Regions from separate parts of the Homo sapiens genome. Here all the other regions are linked to region 3. The links come from fine-mapping of genetic effects on gene expression. A gene starts in region 3. Each other region holds a variant in brackets. All regions are shown on one strand. Distances are between the middles of the regions.

The links. PIP is the estimated chance that this variant, and not a neighbour inherited with it, causes the effect.
Region 1: its variant is fine-mapped to the expression of PCK2 in whole blood (INTERVAL, PIP above 0.99).
Region 2: its variant is fine-mapped to the expression of PCK2 in whole blood (TOPMed, PIP above 0.99). The same link has a PIP of 0.9 or more in blood mononuclear cells, esophagus mucosa, esophagus muscle, gastroesophageal junction, lung and monocytes.

Annotation. Positions count from the first base shown.
Region 1 is chr14:24,139,506-24,146,975 of GRCh38, forward strand. It overlaps EMC9 (ER membrane protein complex subunit 9), which reads right to left and starts at 2,086. Exons shown (of 6, transcript NM_016049.4): 1 at 1,933-2,086; 2 at 1,602-1,811; 3 at 1,384-1,460; 4 at 40-109. The coding sequence starts at 1,799. PSME2 (proteasome activator subunit 2) reads right to left here and starts at 7,105. Exons shown (of 11, transcript NM_002818.3): 1 at 7,029-7,105; 2 at 6,703-6,735; 3 at 6,205-6,267; 4 at 5,874-5,960; 5 at 5,738-5,768; 6 at 5,553-5,650; 7 at 4,895-4,963; 8 at 4,687-4,754; 9 at 4,470-4,524; 10 at 4,080-4,166; 11 at 3,860-3,984. The coding sequence starts at 7,076. The coding sequence ends at 3,904. MIR7703 (microRNA 7703) reads right to left here and starts at 4,060; the gene lies at 3,984-4,060. It also overlaps a transcript of RNF31 not described here. RefSeq lists silencers at 1,920-2,009, 7,151-7,210. The variant G/A (reference allele first, on the strand shown) is at 3,736.
Region 2 is chr14:24,056,120-24,061,119 of GRCh38, forward strand. It overlaps CARMIL3 (capping protein regulator and myosin 1 linker 3), which reads left to right. Exons shown (of 40, transcript NM_138360.4): 11 at 180-274; 12 at 503-589; 13 at 796-905; 14 at 1,048-1,125; 15 at 1,684-1,760; 16 at 1,841-1,945; 17 at 2,036-2,105; 18 at 2,561-2,642; 19 at 2,771-2,867; 20 at 3,016-3,070; 21 at 3,151-3,323; 22 at 3,545-3,613; 23 at 3,851-3,944; 24 at 4,038-4,136; 2 more. Among named protein-coding and RNA genes, the nearest start is that of CARMIL3, 6.6 kb to the left of the region's middle. The variant G/A (reference allele first, on the strand shown) is at 2,344.
Region 3 is chr14:24,090,268-24,097,737 of GRCh38, forward strand. It overlaps PCK2 (phosphoenolpyruvate carboxykinase 2, mitochondrial), which reads left to right and starts at 4,044. Exons shown (of 10, transcript NM_004563.4): 1 at 4,044-4,167; 2 at 6,625-6,870. The coding sequence starts at 4,139. All of the region lies in intron 1 of NRL (neural retina leucine zipper), which reads right to left. RefSeq lists enhancers at 148-197, 4,067-4,716, 4,370-4,439 and a silencer at 3,810-4,059.

The DNA.
Region 1 (7,470 bases), 49 kb after region 3:
CTTGCTTTTCACCTCCCCACCCAGAAACCCAAGCCTCACCATAATAAGTACTGCATCAGGGAAGAATTCTGCAATTCGCCCAGCAATTTTCAAGGCCAGGGGCCCAGGGCTGTGTAGAGGGAAGATCAGAGGAGTGAGGAGCCAACTGTGGGCAAAACCCATCCATTTGAGCTGGGCCTCCCAGGTCTCATAGGTGTGGGCGCAGCTGTGGCCTTTCCCTGTAGGTGGCCTGCGGGGATCGGGCCTGCTGGATGCTTGATGCACGACTGCTTGATGCTTGAGTGCTGTGGGAGACAGGTGCTCAGATATTGCTGGTGAGAGTGGAAACCAAAGGTGGTCTTTTTGGAAGGTAATTTGGCATAACCATCCAAATTGAAACTGTATACATACTATACATATGCTGACCCAGAAATTCTACTTATAAAGAATTTATGGTAATCATAGGACAGTGTCTGTAATAAAACACTGGAAACAACCTCAATGTTTAAAGTATTAAATAAATTAGAGTACATTCATATTCAGACTATATAGCTGTTACGGTAGATCTTGGTGTGGAAATGGGATGATGTCAAGTATTTATTAAGTGAGGGAGAAACGCAAATTACAAAACAGTACCTCTAATTGCTCCATGTATATGATTAATATATATATATATATATATATGTCTTTTCCTATATGTATATATATAAGGAAACTGCCTTATTTTTGAAGTTGCTGGTTGGGATTTCTCTGTTCTTTCAGCCCCTGGGGGACACCTCAGTTAAAGCAAGATCAGTCTGTTGGCCGAGAGTGGTGGCTCACGCCTGTAATCCCAGCACTTTGGGAGTCCGAGGCGCGTGGATCACCTGAGGTCAAGTTCTAGACCAGCCTGGCCAACATGGCGAAACCCCATCTCTACTAAAAATAAAAAATAATAATAAATTAAAAAAATAAAAAAAATTAGCCGGGCATGGTGGCGCTCATCTGTGATCCCAGCTACTCGGGAGGCTGAGGCAGGAGAATCGCTTGAATCTAGGAGGTGGAAGTTCCAGTGAGCCGAGATTGCGCCACTGCACTCCAGCCTGGGAGACAGAGGGAGACTCCGTCTCAAAAAAAAAAAAAAAATCAGTCTGTTGATACACAGTTGTCCTCCCCGCCCCAACGGCACTCCAGGGCAGGGCTCTGTCCTATTCATCTTTATATTCCCTCACTCCAGTACCCAGCATAGTGCCTGGTGTAAAGCCCCTGCTCCTAAGCGTTTGATGAAGGAAAGATAAAAGGAACGACCTTGGTTCATCTTGTGCGCCCCCGCCCCGCCCACCGCCCCACGCATCCTCGCCCTCTATTCCTCCAATCCCCAACCCGCCATAATCCTTTCCTTCTTCCTCTGGCTACGCCACTCACCTCTGATCGTTCACAGCTGCATTGGCATGGTAGTAACCAGCCACCACCAGACCGGCCTGTGCTCCCCACACATCCACCTGTCGTAGGAAAGGGGCCATCAGTAATTAAATTGTGCCGCTGGCTTTGTGGATGCGCACTGCTGCCAAGGGACCGGGGATGAACTTGGGCTGGGGTGTTGGGTGGGTTCGCGGTGGGGGATGGGCATCCAACGGAGGCACCTGGTTGAGGGCGACCTCCAACATGACGGACAGGGCCAGGTGGCTGTGGAAGAGGGGCACACAGTCGGTGAGGCACAGGCATTCTCCAGACCGCGGCGCTGGCGCCAAAAACAGCCCGTTGACTGCGGCGTGTGGGTACCGGGCAGCATGCAGGCACATCTTCACGTAGGCCAGGGCCGAGATCTCCACCTCCCCCATGGCGAGCGAGGCCTGGACGGGAAGCAGCAAGCCGGATTAGTACCGGATTAGGCGAGCCGGTGCCTAGCTCGCGTCCGTGAAGCTCCCTCCAGCGCTTCGGCACGCTCTTTGACCCTTCCCCGTGCCCTCTCACTTCGGTTCGGCGACAACGCTAACTCGACTCGCAGGTAGCCCGCCGGCTCCCGGCGCCCTGGGTCCCGGAGTCCGCCCCCGGCCCAGTCCAGGAGGAGGTCCCGATTGCATCCGAGCCCCGCCTTCCCGCGCCCCTAGCTGGCGGCCGCGACTCTGCGCCTGCCTGGGAGACAGACCAAACTGCAGCTCCCTGCAGAACTGGCTCCTGGAGTCCCGCCCACGTGGTGCTCCTTGATAGGGCTAAAGGCTTTCAATTTGTCCAATCAGCGGCCGCGCCCCAACGTTGCCCCGCCTTTGTCTCCAGCGGACTGGAAAGAACCCACCATTGTGAAGCACAGAAAATTGCCCGCACTCTTATTGGCTAGGTTCCCCGACTTCCGCTCTCGGTTGGTGGTTGGCTTTGCCTGTTACCTGTGTTGCCCACTACCACTCGCTCCGCCGAGCCCCAAGGATGGATCGCTATCCCGTAGCCGGGTGTTCCGGAGCGCTGCGGGCAAAGCAGACCGCCTTGCGCCTATTATGGGTTGAGTGGCTCTGTACTCTAGATCGGCTCTGTCACTTACTAATGGGCCGTGTTGCCTTCGCGACTGCAGGTTTTCTTGCCCTTGGTTTATCTTTTGCCCGTGTTCCTTTAAGGATTTAATGAGATATGTATGGGGGCAGGCTTCCAGCCAGTCTAGTGCTTCGCAGCACATTCTTATCTCATATTTTATGACAGGATAAGGCCCTGAATTAAAGAACAATCCCATGGAGTTTACAGCAAGATCACAGCAAAGGAACCCTTGTCTCTATCACCAGCCCAGGGCTGAATCTTGAAAAGCAGAGATAAAGACAGTGATTGGCTGAAGGGGATATGGGGGAGGACAGTAAGAAAAACTTACAGATTCATCCTTCCCATAATGTCCTGCGATGTATTTCCTTCACCACAGTGCCTTGGAAGCATTATTTTTTCCCCTCCTAGCCCTTAAGGAGGGAGTCCAGGCCCGGCGCGGTGGCTCACGCCTTGTAATCCCAGCACTTTGGGAGGCCGAGGTGGGTGGATCGCCTGAGGTCAGGAGTTCGAGACCAGCCTGGCCAACATGGCGAAACCCCGTCTCTATTAAAAATACAAAAAAATTAGCCAGGTGTGGTGGCACATGCCTGTAATTCCAGCTACTCGGGAGGCTGAGGCAGGAGAATTGCTTGAACCCGGGAGACGGAGGTAGCAGTAAGCTGAGATCGTGCCATTGCACTCCAGCCTGGGCAACAGAGCAAGACTCCATCTCAAAAAAAAAAAAAAAAGGGTGGGGGGAGTCCAATCATTCATCCGTAGTTCTCCATAGTTCTCCCAGTGAAACCTTATTCTCCTTCTAGGCTTTTCCTGAACTGATGAGGATTCTTTCTTTCTTCATTCCTGATGTTGACCACAGAACTTTCCCCTTGTGTATCCAAAGCCTGATTATTCCCATAAGGGCTCTGTGCAAATGCCATCTCTTCCAATAATTCCTGAGACCTCTGGATGAAAATAATACTGTTACATTCCAAAATACAGGTTATCTGCATGGCTGCCATGGCATGTAACAATCCCCACCCTAGGCACTCAGGGTGAAGGACTTGGACTATAAACCCAATGGAGAAGATAGCCCTTCAACCTCTGTGACTTTTCTAAAGCTACTTTCCCCCCTTTTTGCCTTAGATGGAAACAGATAAGCAGGAGAAGAAAGAAGGTAAGTGAGATAAGAGGTGACTAGGGAAGGGGAGATGGCACATTGACTACTGGATGAGAAAGGGCCTGAATCCCCTCTTTCTCACAGTCAAGATTACA[G/A]TGGGCATCTAAGTCATCTTTGTCTTTGTGACACCCACCCCTTCCCACCACATTCATCTTCAGGCTGGACATAGGTGCCACTCAATAAATGCTTTTTGAATGAATGACACACGCCAGAAGGGAATCCACACAACATATAGATCATTTATTTTCCTTCTAGTCCCGGGTTCAGTACATAGATGGCTTTTCTTCACCCTTTGGGTTGACAATTTTCTCCAGGTTGCTGCTGATGATATGATAAAGCTCAGCCTGGGAGAAGGCCAGAGTGCAAGAGTCAGGTTCTTAGCCAATCCCCTGCCTGCCCCCACTCATCCACCTCCCCTAAAGCCTTACTCCACACTCACATAGAAGGCCCTCAGGTCCAGCACCATGGCCCTGAGCTCCCCATAGGCTGCCTCATCTCGCTCATGCACCAAGGCCCGGTAATCCATCTGCAATGTGGGAGGCAAAGCTGAGTCAGTCCCATGGGAGGCTGGGACATGAGTCTGGTTTCCTTTTATAGGAAATAGGTTAACTTGAGAATGAACCCCTTCTTAGCACCAAGAAATAGGATCCCAAAGGACTGAGCAGAGAAAAGGGTCAAGGTTGTTGAAGCCCAAACCAGTTTTTCTAGGTAATGCTTTTAGCTTAATATTCTCCACATTGGGAAAGTCACAAACAAGACAAGGAGGACTTCTTCCTCCACACCTCCTCGTCCCACACCCAGCTAAAAGGCTGGTGGACTATCCACTCACTACATGAGTCTCCTTGGAGGCCTTGGCCACAGCATCCCCACGTTCTGAGAAGTACCTGCCAGAAGCAAGGGAATACCACAGGAATGAGTGTTCAGGGAGATGTACTCCCTCAGACCCTTCCCAAAGTCTCCCATCATCCTGATAGGGCTGCCCAGCTCTGGGGGTCCCAAAGAAATGCTCCTACTGCCCCCAATGCTGGTCCTCCAGCTGCCCTCACTTGGAAATGGTTGTCTGGAAAGCTTCCACTTTGGTCTTGACGGCATTCACCCTCTCCAGCACCTTCTCCTGTGGTGACACGGGAGGCAAAGACAACACTTCATGTCCTCCCCATTTCATACACTATCTTCCTCCTCCTCCTGGTTCATGTCTAGCTCACCCCCTGAGGCTCTCCCCACTCTAAGTATCTTCAGTTACCCTTTTCTTACCTGGATTGCTACCCCAAAATCATTTCCATCTTCAATCTTGGGGATCAGGTGTTGGATCCATGTAATCACCTGTGTTAAGAGGTATCATGTAAGAATCATTCAACAAACATACTGAGTTCTTCCTATTACTGTCACTTCCTAAAAAAAGTTATATTTAATTGGGTACTTATTACATACCAGGTACTGTGCCATGTATTTATTTCATGTAATCATCACAGCAACCTTCAGAGATATGTATTTATTGTACCCATTTAACAGATGAAAAAACTGAGTCACAGAATGTCTAAGTGACTTACTTAAGGCTACCAGCTAGGTAACTGATAGAATCACGATTTGAACCTAAGCAGTCTCTCTCTAGGGTCCAATCTTTTAAAACAATTCACTCACTATATCATACCACCTCTACTATGAACCCAATACAGCAGTAGGTTCTGAGGTTACAGAGTGGATACTGCACAGTCTCTAATTTTGGGGGTACCGTTGTGATAAGAGAGGTCTAACAGAACGAGGAGAACAAAGGGGATCTAAGCCCAAGGCACAGAAGGAAGTTTTCTTTTTCAGGACTAGGTCTCTGTATGAAGGACTTGTATCTACGGAGGAGTCCAGGGCCTCACCTTGTGTGTCTTCTCTTTCTGCTTCCCCCATTTCCCAGGCTTACCAGAATGCATTTCTCTTTGAGAGTCCAGACTTCTGGCTTAACCAGGGCAAGCAGGGACAGGACTTTCTCATTCCCAGGGAGAAATCCACACTTATGGACTGTGAGAAAGAGGGGATTCAGGCCCTTTCTCATCCAGTAGTCAGTGTGCCATCACCCCTTCCCTAGTCACCTCTTATCTCTCTTACCTTCTTTCTTCTCCTGCTTATCTGTTTCCATCTAAGGCAAAAAGGGGGGAAAGTAGCTTTAGAAAAGTCACAGAGGTTGAAGGGCTATCTTCTCCATTGGGTTTATAGTCCAAGTCCTGCACCCTGAGTGCCTCACCTCATCATCCTTGGGTGGAGGGTCTGGGATGGGGATGTCCAGTGGGGCCCGGAGGGAAGTCAAGTCAGCCACATTGAGGGAGTCCTCCTGCACAGAGCTCACTGTCAAGGGCTGCCCAACCTCTTCCCTTCATCCTAGGTCACAGCCTTCCCTCCATACATCCCACTTGCACTCTGCCTCCCAACCTAGGCTCATGCCTCACGCCATCCTAATGTTCCTAATCCACTATTTGAAACTATTCTCTGCATGCTGAATCCAGTTGTTAGCTAGAGAGGGTGGGCAAAGGGGATAGAGGACATAGGATGGGGCAGAAGGGGCCCACACTACTCACTTGCAAGAGCTGATTCAGGTATATGATTTTCTGTGGCAAGAATCTGTAGAGGAATTCCTCAGCCTGTGGGTTACATTGCAAGGGAGGGGAATCACAGAATATGCTCAATGAGATGTCTGACAAATGGAACTGGAAGGGCCTTTGGAAATCACTGGGTCCAAGACTTGCAAATGAGGAAACTGAAGACCTGAAAATGAAAGGACTTGCCCAAGCTGGTAAATGGCAGAACGAAGGTTAGGACTGTGATATTCCTGCTTTGGAAGCCATGGTTTTTTTCCTCCACATCAAAAGACGGGAGAAGTGCCAGAAGTCGGGAGAGTCATAAGAAAGGTCAGATTAAAGGTAGCTATCAATAATTCCGGGGTTACTTTGGGTGAAGGCTTGGTAAGGGAAGTAGGGTTAAGTCTAGGGTGACTTGGGGGGGTCATTCTGAGAGGCTGTTATCCTCAAGTATTGGTCCAAGATTCTGGGTCAAATCGCTCAAATCCAGAGACTTACCTCCTGGAAAAGATTCTGTCTGAAGACCTCCACCTACACAGAGAGCAGTACCCGGATGTTGGTTAAGGGTCTGGGTTGTCAAAAGCTTCCACCCACAACAGGGTGCCCTCGAACTGTGGCTCAGGCCTTTCTCACCACAAACTAGCTTTCCCTGGAAGCTCCTGCTCACTGCAGTCAGAAGGCAGGAATCTGGGAATCCCCGAGAAGTGAAGGCACTAGCGAGATTGGGGGAGTTCTCTGGCACTGCTTGGTCCCCTGAACCACCCAGCTTGGCCTCCACCCAAGAGGGTTCTATGACCCCTTCCTGGCCTCCGATTCCCCATTACCTGTTTGCGGGCTTCCCCGCTCAGGCGCACCCCACACGGCTTGGCCATGCTGCTTCAGTCGCTAGATCTCTGGTCTCCCGGCTAGTCGCCCGGGCTTTCGCTTTCACTCCCCAGGTCCAGGCCCGCCCCCCTCAACCCCGCCCCCTTTCTTCTTTCCGCCCCCCTCCTCCCGCTGGCAGGCCGCAAGCAGTAGGTAGCCCCTCAGCCATTCCCAGCCAGTTGCCACTAGGAGAGGCGGTGCTGGCTGGGTCACAGTCCAGGGGCTGCCCGAGGGAGGGGCTAGGGTAAGTGGGACCGCGGAGACTGGAGCGGGGGCTGTCCCTCGGAGAGGGGCGGGGCTTATAGCTAGGGCCAACTGGAAGTCCAGGGTTGGGGTAAGAGAGGTGGGAGTATGGCAAAGGGGGTATTCAGTGGCGGGGCTCCCCCAAGAAGGCTCGACCGC
Region 2 (5,000 bases), 35 kb before region 3:
TGCCCCCAGGTACTCCGGAGTGGTGACAAGCTCCCTGGCAGGCCCTGAGCTGTTCCCCTGTTGTGGGGGCCTCTGACCATGCAGCCCCAGCCAGGCAGTCAGGTAGAGGAGGAGGGGAAGCCCAGAGGCTGGGACCTGGGGCTCAGCTCAGGACAAATCCTTCCTCCCCTTCCCTGAAGGGACTTTGTCCAGAAGCTGGCCGGGGTGTTTGGGGAGAACGGGAGCTGTGTGCTGCATGCCCTCACTCTGTCCCACAACCCCATCGAGGACAAGGGTGAGCCCCAGCCCTGAATCCTGTCCCCATCCCAATGCAGACCCCTGTCCTAGCCCAGAGCCCAACCAGGTCTGAACAGCAGCTCTCCAGCCTGATTCCAGCCCCTGCCCTGACACCTCCATCCTTGACCCAAGGCCTGTACCCTACTCGAGCCCCCAACCTGACTCTGTGCCACCTGCACCCACTGCCCTGCCCCTCACTGGGCCCGTTTCTCTCTCCACTCCCCAGGTTTTCTCAGTCTGAGCCAGCAGCTCCTCTGCTTCCCCTCTGGCCTCACCAAACTGTGCCTGGCCAAGACTGCCATTTCCCCTCGAGGTACTCGCACCAAGGACCCCTGACCTCTGACCCTACCCTGGTGCTGCCTGGGGTGTTGAGCTCCAGAGGTACACCCACACATTCACACACCACCTCAGGGATGGAAGAGTGAAAAGGAGCCACGTTTGGGGAGAGGGGAAGAGTTATGTGCTGAGGGGAAGAGGTGGGGCTAGGGGCCAACCCAGCCCAGTGCCCGCTGTGCTCAGGGCTCCAGGCACTCGGCCAGACCTTCGGGGCAAACCCAGCATTTGCCAGCTCCCTTCGATACCTGGACCTGAGCAAGAATCCTGGGCTCCTCGCCACGGATGAGGCCAATGTGAGTCCTCAGAACAGCCTCAGCCCCCTGCAGAAAGCATGCTTAAGCTTCAGGAGCTGGGAGGCCTTCTGCCCCATGGCCTCTGGGGGTGGCGAGACTCCATCATCCCTTCCCCTGCAACCCCTCTTCCTTCCTACTCCAGGCCCTCTACAGTTTCCTGGCCCAACCCAACGCCCTGGTGCACCTGGACCTGTCAGGAACTGACTGCGTCATCGACTTGGTGAGGAGTTGGTGATGGGAAGCCAGTCTGAGGTGATTTGGGGAAGACCACAGTGGGCCTCGGTCTCACCCCCTATCCCTGAGTACACAGGCGGGCAGAGCTGTCTAGATGACTTCAGGTTCAGCTGAAGTATAAAGCAATGTCCATAGTTCATACCTGTGTGGCACTTTATCCAGGTCACAAGCTTGTGCTTGCTGTGCTTAAAAGCCAGCCCTTGCTCCCTTCCCCAGCTGTGCACCCTGGCTCCACCAGGGGAATGGATGCTTTTCCTAACTTGAACAAGGCACCTTAGGAGTCAGTGGTGGCCCTGGCTTTACACATCCACTGCCTGTGAGCAGCTTCATGCCCCTGGAAGCCAGGCAGGGAGTAGACCCATGTTCCACAGGGGAGAAAACAGAGACTTCAAGAATCTGAGTGGGCATCTCCAGTGGAGCTCACACAGGCTGACCACAGAGAATGAAGAGCCAGGAACCTCGATGGGGAGGGAGGGGGAGTCCTTTCCTGCCACCCCCTACCCCCTTCCAGCTCCCCTGAGACCCACCATATCTCCCCCCACAGCTTCTCGGTGCCCTGCTCCACGGCTGCTGCTCCCACCTCACCTACCTCAACCTGGCTCGCAACAGCTGCTCCCACAGGTGGGAGAGGAGGGGGAAGGGAGGACAGGGCAAGACATGGCCAACCCCCTCCCTCGCTGACCCCAGGGGTCTCTCCACAGGAAGGGTCGAGAGGCCCCGCCGGCCTTCAAGCAGTTCTTCAGCAGCGCCTACACACTGAGCCACGTCAATCTGTCGGCCACAAAGCTGCCCCTGGAGGCCCTCAGGTCGGGTGGGTGCAGGGTTGGGGGCGCATCCAAGGGAACCACGGGGAGCGGGAAGAGGTAAAGGAGGGCCTGCTGACCTCCCTCCCACAGGGCGCTGCTTCAGGGCCTCTCCCTCAACAGTCACCTCAGTGACCTGCACCTGGATCTCAGCAGCTGCGAGGTGAGCCCTCAGTCCCCAACCCCTCTGCCCGCCTCCGATCCATGTGCATTTCTCAGACCTAAGTCAAACCCTGGCTCCATCTAGCCTCTGTGCTGACCCTCTGCGACCCCCTGACCTGGCCACACCACCACTTTCCCCTCTCAGTCTGGCCTCTTTTCCAGAGGCCATTCATTCTCAGTCTCTAGTATCTCTGCCCTTAAAGCTTTGGGGTGGGAGATACCAGACTTTTCCACCAGAG[G/A]GCAGGAGCAAGCTGTCTTAGGAATAGCAGCCTTCCTGGCCGAAGGGAGGGAAGCCAGCTCTAGGGAAGGATCTGGTGTGGGGAAAGAGTCTCCCTGATTTTACACCCAGATCCTGGCATGACTTTGAGTTCTGGTGTGACTACTATATCCTAAGCATTAAAGGTGCCCTACCCCCACCCCAACCCCTGCCTTCCCTACCTCACCTTGTCCCTGCAGCTCCGTTCAGCGGGAGCCCAAGCCTTGCAGGAGCAGCTGGGAGCTGTCACCTGTGTAGGCAGCCTGGATCTGTCAGACAATGGTGAGTAGTGGTTCCTCCCTTCCCTGGGGCCAGGGGAGAACAGGGGCCTGGAGCATGCAGAAGCAGCCCTGATGGGACACCAGTCAGCCTCAGGCCTCCAGGCCAGGCCTCTCCCATCTGCTCACCAGGGTTCGACTCGGACCTCCTGACACTGGTGCCTGCACTTGGCAAGAACAAGTCCCTCAAGCACCTGTTTTTGGGCAAGAACTTCAATGTCAAGGCCAAGTGAGGCCCCCTTTCCATGCCCACAGACCCTCATCCCATCATTCACCCATCCTCTTGGCTCACCGTATTACCTCTGGCCACCTCTCTCCTCCTCCAATAGCATGACCCCAGCCCTTCCCCTCCTACTCTGAGCCCCGCCTCCCTGCAGGACCCTGGAGGAGATCCTCCACAAGCTGGTGCAGCTGATCCAGGAAGAGGACTGTGTGAGTGCCTGGGCCTGGGAGGGGACCTGCAGTCGGAGGAGGCTGTGGGGACTGGGTCCAACCGCCCCTTGCCCACACAGTCCCTGCAGTCACTGTCGGTGGCAGACTCCCGGCTGAAGCTTCGCACCAGCATCCTCATCAATGCCCTGGGCAGCAACACCTGCCTGGCCAAGGTGGATCTGAGCGGCAATGGCATGGAGGACATCGGGGCCAAGATGCTGTCTAAGGCCCTGCAGATAAACTCCTCCCTCAGGTGGGGCCCACACCGGGACCCCCTGACCTGGAGCCCCAGCCCCTCCCCATATGTACATAATCTCCCTGCTTTCCTTGATGCTCTGGACCCCAGCTTCCAGAAGACCCCCAGCCCCAGAACCATCTCTGAGTCAGCCTTATTGCCCCAAGAGGTTTGTGTCCCTGGCCCCTAGTAGGGACCCAGGAGGAGAGGTGCCAAACTGGTGCTTACCCTCCCCCCAGAACTATCCTATGGGATCGGAACAATACATCTGCCCTGGGCTTCCTGGACATCGCAAGGGCCCTGGAGAGGTGAGTAGACCATGGTCCTGCCCTGATCCAAGTCCCCAGCCTCCCTGTGCCTGGATCAGGCCTGAACTACTCTTGCCCCACCCTAGCCCCTTTGACCTATTTGCACAGAAATTTTAGGAAGGGCCATGGAAGACAGAAATGATGAGCAAGGGGGCTGGAGGGCTGCTCACCAACAGAGGAGGCAGGGGCCTCCCATCCTCACCTGTTCCCACCCAGCTGTGCCCCTGTGTCCCACAGCAACCACACGCTGCGCTTCATGTCCTTCCCCGTGAGCGACATCTCCCAAGCCTATCGCAGCGCGCCTGAGCGCACCGAGGACGTCTGGCAGAAGGTGCAGGGTGCTGTCCTAAGCAGGGTGGCACAGCAAGGGGCAGGGGGCAGCCCCCATCCCCAGGCCCTGACCCACCAACCCCATCATCTCCAGATCCAATGGTGCTTAGTGAGGAACAACCACTCCCAGACGTGCCCCCAGGAGCAGGCCTTCAGGTTGCAGCAGGGCCTGGTGACCAGCAGCGCCGAGCAAGTAAACGTTTCCCTCTGGGACACGGGGCATACCCGGGGCATGCAGGGCACAGTGTGATGTGATGGAAAATTGAGTGGGGGAGCATGAAGAGGCACTGCATGGTGCCTATCACTGGACTGAGCATGTGGGGAAGCAAAAAGAGAGGACATGCAGGATATGGGCTTCAAACATATGTGGGCGAACAGCAGGAGTGCACAGGACTCTGGGAGCTCAGCTGGGCATTCAAGAAGGCTGTAGCAATGGGGACCAGGCCAGCCAGAGACATCACCTCCACCACTGTCGGTGCCAGCACCAGTAGCACTGTCTAAGGGGTCCTACCTGCGAAGATGTGGAAGCAGGGGTCCCCTTGACACCCCTGCCACTGTGCTCCAGATGCTGCAGCGGCTGTGTGGACGAGTGCAGGAGGAGGTGCGGGCCCTGAGACTATGCCCCCTGGAGCCTGTGCAGGATGAGCTACTCTACGCTCGGGACCTCATCAAAGATGCCAAGAACTCCCGGGCGGTGAGCCCTCCACAGGCTACCCTTCCCCTGAAGTCTGGAGAACCCAAGAAGGCCGACCATGCTAAGCCATGACAGCCCTGCCCTGTGCATCTGCCTTCCTAGCCCAGGGACCCCAGAGACCTAGCAAGTCCTGGTTCTGGCCTGCTAATCATAACCCCTTCCTTCTCCAGCTGTTTCCCAGCCTCTATGAGCTGGGCCACGTGCTGGCCAATGATGGGCCTGTGCGGCAGAGGCTGGAATCAGTAGCAAGTGAGGTGTCCAAAGCTGTGGACAAGGAGCTGCAGGCAAGTCCTGGAGGAGGGAGGAATCCATGGTGGGAACCTAGTGTTGACTGAGGCCCTAAGCCCAGAGCTAAAGTCAGAG
Region 3 (7,470 bases):
GGGGGGGGGGGGGGCACGGGGGGGGACTTTCAAAGAAAGAGTAGCAGGACCCAAGAGAGGGAACAGTTGAATGGCACTGCAGTTGTAATCAGCTGAGCCTAAAGAGCTCTGGGGCTGGGATGGACCTTCAGAGTTGTCCCAAACTGAGACAAAGGGCTAGGCCTCTGTACTTTATAACAACCATTCATTGGATACATACTGCCCCCAGGAAGCGGGCATTGCATTTGGTGAGACAGCTCCCTTTGGCCACAGATAGTGCTCAAGGAAGTACTCAGCTGTGAGCTATCAGCAGCCAACACTCAGCAGCTGGAACAATGAGCATCATGATCCTGAAGCGGGAATCTGGGCTACACACCACAGCATCACTACTCGGGCTGTGAGACTTCAGGGATGAACCCAGAGGCCCCAGAGAGGACAATGCAGATCACACTCTGCCCCCTGGTGGTACTCCTTGGACATAGGGCCAGCTGGTGGGCCAGGCTCTCCCGGCAGGGAACTAAAGAAAAGTGTGTGGCAGATAAGGGGAAATGAGCAGTGCAAGGAAATCTGCACGTGAGCCCCTTGCTCCATCTGCCTAAAGCTAGAGAAGAAAGTAATGGTGGGGAAGAAGAATTCAGAAACGTGGCACTCATTCATTCTTTTATTCAACCAACTTTTATTAAGTGCCTGTTATAGGCCAGGTACTGCTGGGAACTAGGAGAAAAACAAGACTGAAATCATCACTCTAGTGAGGATTACAGAGATATAAAAGTAACTACAGTATAGTAAAGTACAAAAATATAGGCATATACATGGGATAGAAGCAACACAGATGAAATAGATGTTCATTCTAAGGGACGAACAGAAAAGGCCTGTGTGTGTGTGTGTGTGTGTGTGTGTGTGTGTGTGTGTGTGTGTGTTAGAGACAGAGTCTCACTGTGTTGCCCAGGCTGGAGTGCAGTGGTGCGATCTCGGCTCACTGCAACCTCCGCCTCCCGGGTTCAAGCGATTCTCCTGCCTCAGCCTCCTGAGTAGCTGGGACTACCGGCGTGCGCCACCACACCAAGCTAATTTTTGTATTTTTAGTAGAGACGGGGTTTCACCATGTTGGCCAGGATGGTGTGTGTTTAATTTGAGTGCAGATGCCCAGAAAAAGTTCACAGAAGTGCTCTGGAAACTTCAGAGTTCAGTACGTAGGAGAAAAGGAGGCAAGTGGGGATGTGGGGGTGACAACATTAGATAAATAGGAGTCAGATTATGAAGGACATAAGATATCATGTGATGGAAAGAGCCTGGAAGAGATTTTAAGCTTAAGAGTGATATGATCTAATTTTTAATGGTAAATCAAGGGGACAGTATAGGATTTATAGGGAGAGGGGGACTTGGTAATTAGAGTCAGAAAGATATGGATTCAGATTCCATTTCTCCTGCTAACCATTTGTGTGACTTTGAGCAAATGACTCTTTTTTTTTTCAATATACACAAAGCAATTTTATTTGTATGTACTTGTGGTAAACAATTAGAACATTTCATTCATAATAGGATAAAAGTATAAAATATTCATGAATAATTTTTTTTCAGAACAGGAATGGAAGTTTATTAAAAAGCTTTAGAGCAGGAATGAAAGAAAGGAAAGTACACTTGGAAGAGGCCCAAGCAGGCATCTTGGAGGTCAAGTGCGGCATTTGACCTTTGATTTAGGGTGTTATATGTTGGCATACTTCTGGGGTCCTGCCTCCCTTTTTCCTTGATTCTTCCCTTAGGGTGACCGAGCAAATGACTCTTTAAGCCCGTGTCCACATATGTAAAATATAGTTGTGAAACAGAATGAGATTATGCATGCAGAGTTGCTGACACAGAGCCTGGCACCTACTGTCCATAGCATAAACATTATTCTTCTCTCTTAACTTTCCAAGTGGATTTGCATGCACAGTGTGGGGAGTGGCTTGGTAGGGAGAGGGGTTGGTGTTTGGAGAGGCAGGAGTCCAAGAAGTGCCTTAGAAGCTATCACCTGAAGCCAGGTGAGAGATAAGCCCTGAACTAAGGCCCTGGCCATGGGGATAGTTGCAGACTTGAGGGCTAATTGAGAAGTACAATTCCAAAGGTCCTGGCATCTGATTAGCTATGCAGGATAAGAATAGTCTAGACTGATTCCCTTTGGGGCAACTGGCCAGATGATGGTGCCATTTGCTGAGGTAGGAAACCATGAGAGCAGGTGCAGGATTATGGAGAAGATGATGACCTTCAGGTCAACCATGCTGCCACCAGTGTGCACACCTTTAGGCCCAAAGGTTGGCCAAGAGGTATGTGTTTGCAGCTGGGTAAGTGTGGACAGAGTTTGGATCTATGAACTGGGGGGAAAGAGATCCAAATACATATACCTGAGGTTGAGTGTAGGCTAGAGCCTGAGGGGGAAGAGACGGGGACCAGTAGCAAGCCCGTGGCTGGAGACCAGCTCTCCTTATCCCACTATGTTCCAGCATAGAACTCCAAGAAATCTGAGAATCAAGACTGTTTCTGTTGCAAGTGGCAGAACTCCAATTAAAATTAGCTTGAGCAAGAGAAGAAATGCATCAATTCCTGTAACTGAAATCAGGAATCCATTGCTCGCCATCTCCCTGCTCTGCTTCCTCTAGGCTGGCTTCTGTCTCAGCCAGGTTCCTGCTTTGCAGTGCCAAGCTAACACTCAGCAGCTCCAGGCTTATATTCTACCAGCTCAGCAACTCAGCAGAAAGAGAGCTAACTTCCAAAGTTTTAGAAAAAGTCCCAGAGAGGGATCTCATGCCCATCCTTGAACATCCTTGATTGCTGTGGCCAGAGTGAGGAACACAAAAGTTGGCTAAGCTGCAAGCCTACCCCCAAGAGGGGTGACATCAGACCCACATGACAATACAGACTGAGGAGATGGTTCCCCAAAAGAAAATCAGGGTGCTATTACCAGAAAAGGCGAGTGGATGCTGAGCAGACACCCATCATAGATATGCTGAGTTTGAGGTGCTATATAGCATTGTGGGTGATATCCAGTGGTCTCAGGTTGGAGAGAGATGTCCCAATGGAGGTATAGCTTGAGAAATCACCTGAGGACTTTATGATGGTAGTTGGGTGGGCAGATGAGTTTCCTCATTGGATTGTGGAGAGAAAGAATGACCAGGCCGGGCGTGGTGGCTCACGCCTGTAAATTCCAGCACTTTGGGAGGCCAAGGCAGGCGGATCACGAGGTCAGGAGTTGGAGACCAGCTTGGCCAGCATGGAGAAACCCCGTCTTTACAAAAAATACAAAAAATCAGCCGAGTGTGGTGGCAGGCGCCTGTAATTCCAGCTACTCTGCAGGTTGAGACAGGAGAATTGCTTGAACCCGGGAGGCGGAGTGTGCAGTGAGCCGAGATCGCGCCACTGCACGCACTCCAGCCTGGGTGACAGAGTAAGACTCCGTCAGGGGAAGAGGGGATGTGCCGGGGGAGGAGAATGACCAGATCAGAGGACCAAGGAAGAGACCCAGGGGTAGAGAGACTCCACCATTTCATGGCAAGGCAGAAAGGAGCCTTGATCAGGAGGAGAAACGGGGATTTAGGAGTTGGGGACTAAGTGGACCTTAGCATTGGGCACTTGGACTACAGAAAGGCCCAGGACTCAGGGTGTCGCGTCCCCAGGAGGAGGAACTGGAAAGGCAATGCCCAACCCCCTAACTTCTAGACGTCTGGCCCCTGTAGTCTCCCGCCCCTGGCCTCGCCCCTCGTTCCTAGCTTGTTTGCCACCTAGTGTCTCTCCCGGGAGCAAGAGTCCTCAAAGTTACATCATGTGCGGCTGGGAGGGCGGTGGCGGATGGGGGGCGGGGCCTCGAAGTCGGGGGCCGAAGAGTGGACCCAGTCCTCCAATGGGAGAGATGGGTTTGGCGGTTTGGAGGCAGGGGTTGGGGCGGCGGCTGGGCTGACCTGGAGCCTGGAGCCCCGGGGCCGAGGGAGCTGGCCTGCCAGCGGGGCGGAGGAAAGCTAGTGCCAGCCCTACCAGGTTCCGCCCCCGCGCCTGCCCCCCTCCTTTTTAAGCGCCTCCCGCCAGCCTCTGCTGTGGCTCGCTTCGCCGCGCTCCCTCCTTCCCCGCCTTCCATACCTCCCCGGCTCCGCTCGGTTCCTGGCCACCCCGCAGCCCCTGCCCAGGTGCCATGGCCGCATTGTACCGCCCTGGCCTGCGGTGAGTGACCCCCGGCCCGGGGCCCACCCGCACCTTCCGCTGCGCTCGCCCCCTCGGGGCTGCCAGTGGCGCTCTCCTGCTCTCAGCCTCCGCCAGGTTTCCCATCCTAGGCGGAGGCGGGCAGGGGCGACTGCTGTGGGTCCAGCCTCCCGCGCCGCGCGTCTCTTGGGAGGGCAGCCGGCCGGTGCTCCTCGTTTCCGCCTGCACCTCCCCTTCTCTGCCTCGCTCGCCTCTGACCGCGCGATCTCTATCTGCCACTCTCAGAACTTCCTCTCTCTCCTCGCTCCTCTCTGCTGAGCCAGGTCTCCGCATATCCTCCTTTCCTTCCCAGATACCTCCCTCGGACCTCTAACGGGCTCTCAGCCAGCGCCCCAGGGTACTTCGAGAGGCAGCAGGGCCCTGGGGACAAGGGTACGTGAGCCCCGGGAGACTAAGCTCAGAGCCCCCTAAAGAAGGTGGAAGGTTAAATATCCATTCCCGGCCTCTCCCGGACTGGAAGGACTGGAACCTGGCGGGAAGTCCAGAGCAGCCCGAGGGACCTGGGCCCAGGGGAGGGAGGCAAGCAAGGTGGGAGGAGGGCGCCAAGTTGCCTTCGTTTCTTACATAGCTGGCTTCTTCCTCCGTCCAGGCCTGGAGCCCCCAGGCTCGTCCTGTTTGTCTGCCTGTCCTCTTAGTCTCCTATTTATTCTCTGAGGCCTCTCTTCTCAGCTTTTGTCCCAGAGTCGGAAGTGACCCACATCTGTCGCACAGCCCGTTCCACTTGGGCAGCCCTTGTGGGTGGTCTCTGAAGGAAACGTCCCACTTAGAGGGCTGCAAGAGGGTGTGGGGGCTTCACAAGAGATAACGTGAGCCAGGCTCCAGGGAGAGAGAGGCTGTCCTCAAGACTGTGTGCTTGAAAACTGATGCTCACGGAGAACTTCCCTCTGAGGCAGGAACAGACCCAGGTCCCAGTAGCCCTCCTCCCCTGCCCCTGGGGCCACACTGATCATCTATCCTGCTTTAGCGGAAACCACCCCAGCTTCTACCCCAGACAGACTCAAGCTCCCGTATCCATGCTCTGAGCTTTCTTCCTTCCCCAGGCTAACACCCTCTGAGTCTGAGCTGCCAGCAAGCTGCTGTTCCACCCTCCCACCAACACCAAAGCTCTCTAGGCATGTGGCCTCTAGGAAGAAGAGCCAGGGGAAGCACGGGGTCACGTGGTCCTGGGTGTGGGGGCAGTTTCTGATGGGCGAGGCCTTGATAGAGGAGGAGAGTAACATCCCCTTCATGGTCTTTGCTCTCTCGGGTTTACTCCACCTTGAGTCCAGGCCAATCAGAGCAGACGTTGCTTCTCTGTCTCCCAGGGCCATGAGAGGACAGACAACAGGACGCTGACCTCCTGAGAATTAAGCCCATGAACCCCAGCCAGTGACACTCATTCCCCAGTGGTCAACCTTCCGCAGAGTTCAGAAATACTTACCCGAGGGCAACATTTTATGCAACCATTGTTGGTCCAAGTGGGCAGCAGCAGATCAGGGCCTGGAAGCCCAGCATCCAGTCACCTATTCTCTGTGCAAGAGCCCTCATCTAGAAACCTGGCACTGGAAAGACTGTGACCTTTGCTTGGGGCTTTCATAGTCTTACAGCATACACACCAGAAGGAAAGAATAAACACAGCTGCCATTTTAATTTATAAAAAACTATACTTGAAAATGGAAATAAAATGGATGAGGCTTCAAATACCAGACATATGAAATTGTCACCTGGGCCCAACTTCTTGTCTTGACACTTGGGCCAAAGGCCCCTACTCATTTCTTTTTTTTTTTTTTTTTTTTTTTTTTTTGAGACAGAGTCTTGCTCTGTCGCCCAGGTTGGAGTGCAGTGTCCCGATCTCGGCTCACTGCAACCTCCACCTCCCGGGTTCAAGCGATTCTCCTGCCTCAGCCTCCTGAGTAGCTGGGACTAGAGGCACACGCCACCACATCCGGCTAATTTTTATATTTTTAGTAGATGGGGTTTCACCATGTTGCCCAGTATGGTCTTGATCTCCTGACCTCATGATCCACCTGCCTCAGCCTCCCAAAGTGCTGGGATTACAGGCATGAGCCACCGTGCCCAGCCATCTCCCTACTTATTTCTAAACGTTGATTAAACAGTTAAACATGGGCATGGGCTACACAGGCAGTAACATCAGCATGCCTACATGTATACTTCCACACAGCCAGGCATGTGCCTTTTTTGCTCATTTGGCCATATCTGTCCCTCGCTGAGCAGGAGACACCCTCCTCAAGCCTCATAAAGGCTACAAGATACATGTGTCCTGAACACATCCCACACACCAACTGCAACCTGCTCTTCATGGTCCCTGCATGCAGACATGTTTTAGCAGGCTGCAGCCCAAGCTTTCTGTCTCTCCACCACCTGCCTTGTCCACTCTCGATGACAGCAACTAGCTCATTGCCTCTGTTTCTCCTATAGGCTTAACTGGCATGGGCTGAGCCCCTTGGGCTGGCCATCATGCCGTAGCATCCAGACCCTGCGAGTGCTTAGTGGAGATCTGGGCCAGCTTCCCACTGGCATTCGAGATTTTGTAGAGCACAGTGCCCGCCTGTGCCAACCAGAGGGCATCCACATCTGTGATGGAACTGAGGCTGAGAATACTGCCACACTGACCCTGCTGGAGCAGCAGGGCCTCATCCGAAAGCTCCCCAAGTACAATAACTGGTAAGCCTTGGGCTCCACAACCTGCAGGATAGGTGCACTGAGGCCACTTTGGGTTCACCAAGGCAAAATCAACTTAACTAGAACATCCCAATGGAATGAACAAGAATGAGAGCTTTGGGGTAAACAGACCCAGAAACTGGGATTTGCTTACGCCTATAATCCCAGCACTTTGAGAGGCCAAGGCGGGTGGATCACCAGGTGTCGGGAGTTTGGGACCAGCCTGACCAACATGGAGAAACCCCGTCTCTACTGAAAAAAAAAAAAAAAAATACAAAAATTAGCCCAGCATGGCAGCGCATGCCTGTAATCCCAGCTACTTGGGAGGGTGAGGCAGGAGAATCACTTAAACCCAAGAGGCGGAGGTTGCAGTGAGCCAAGATCGCGTCATTGCACTCCAGCCTGGGCAATAAGAGCGAAACTCTGTCTCAAAAAAAAAAAAGAAAGAAACTGGGATTTTTTTTTTTTTTTGAGATGGAGTCTCACTGTATCACCCAGGCTGGAGTGCAGTGGCATGATTTCAGCTCACAACAACCTCTGCCTCCGGGGAATTGTCTCAAGCAATTCTCCTGCCTCAGCCTCCGGAGTAGCTGGGATTACAAG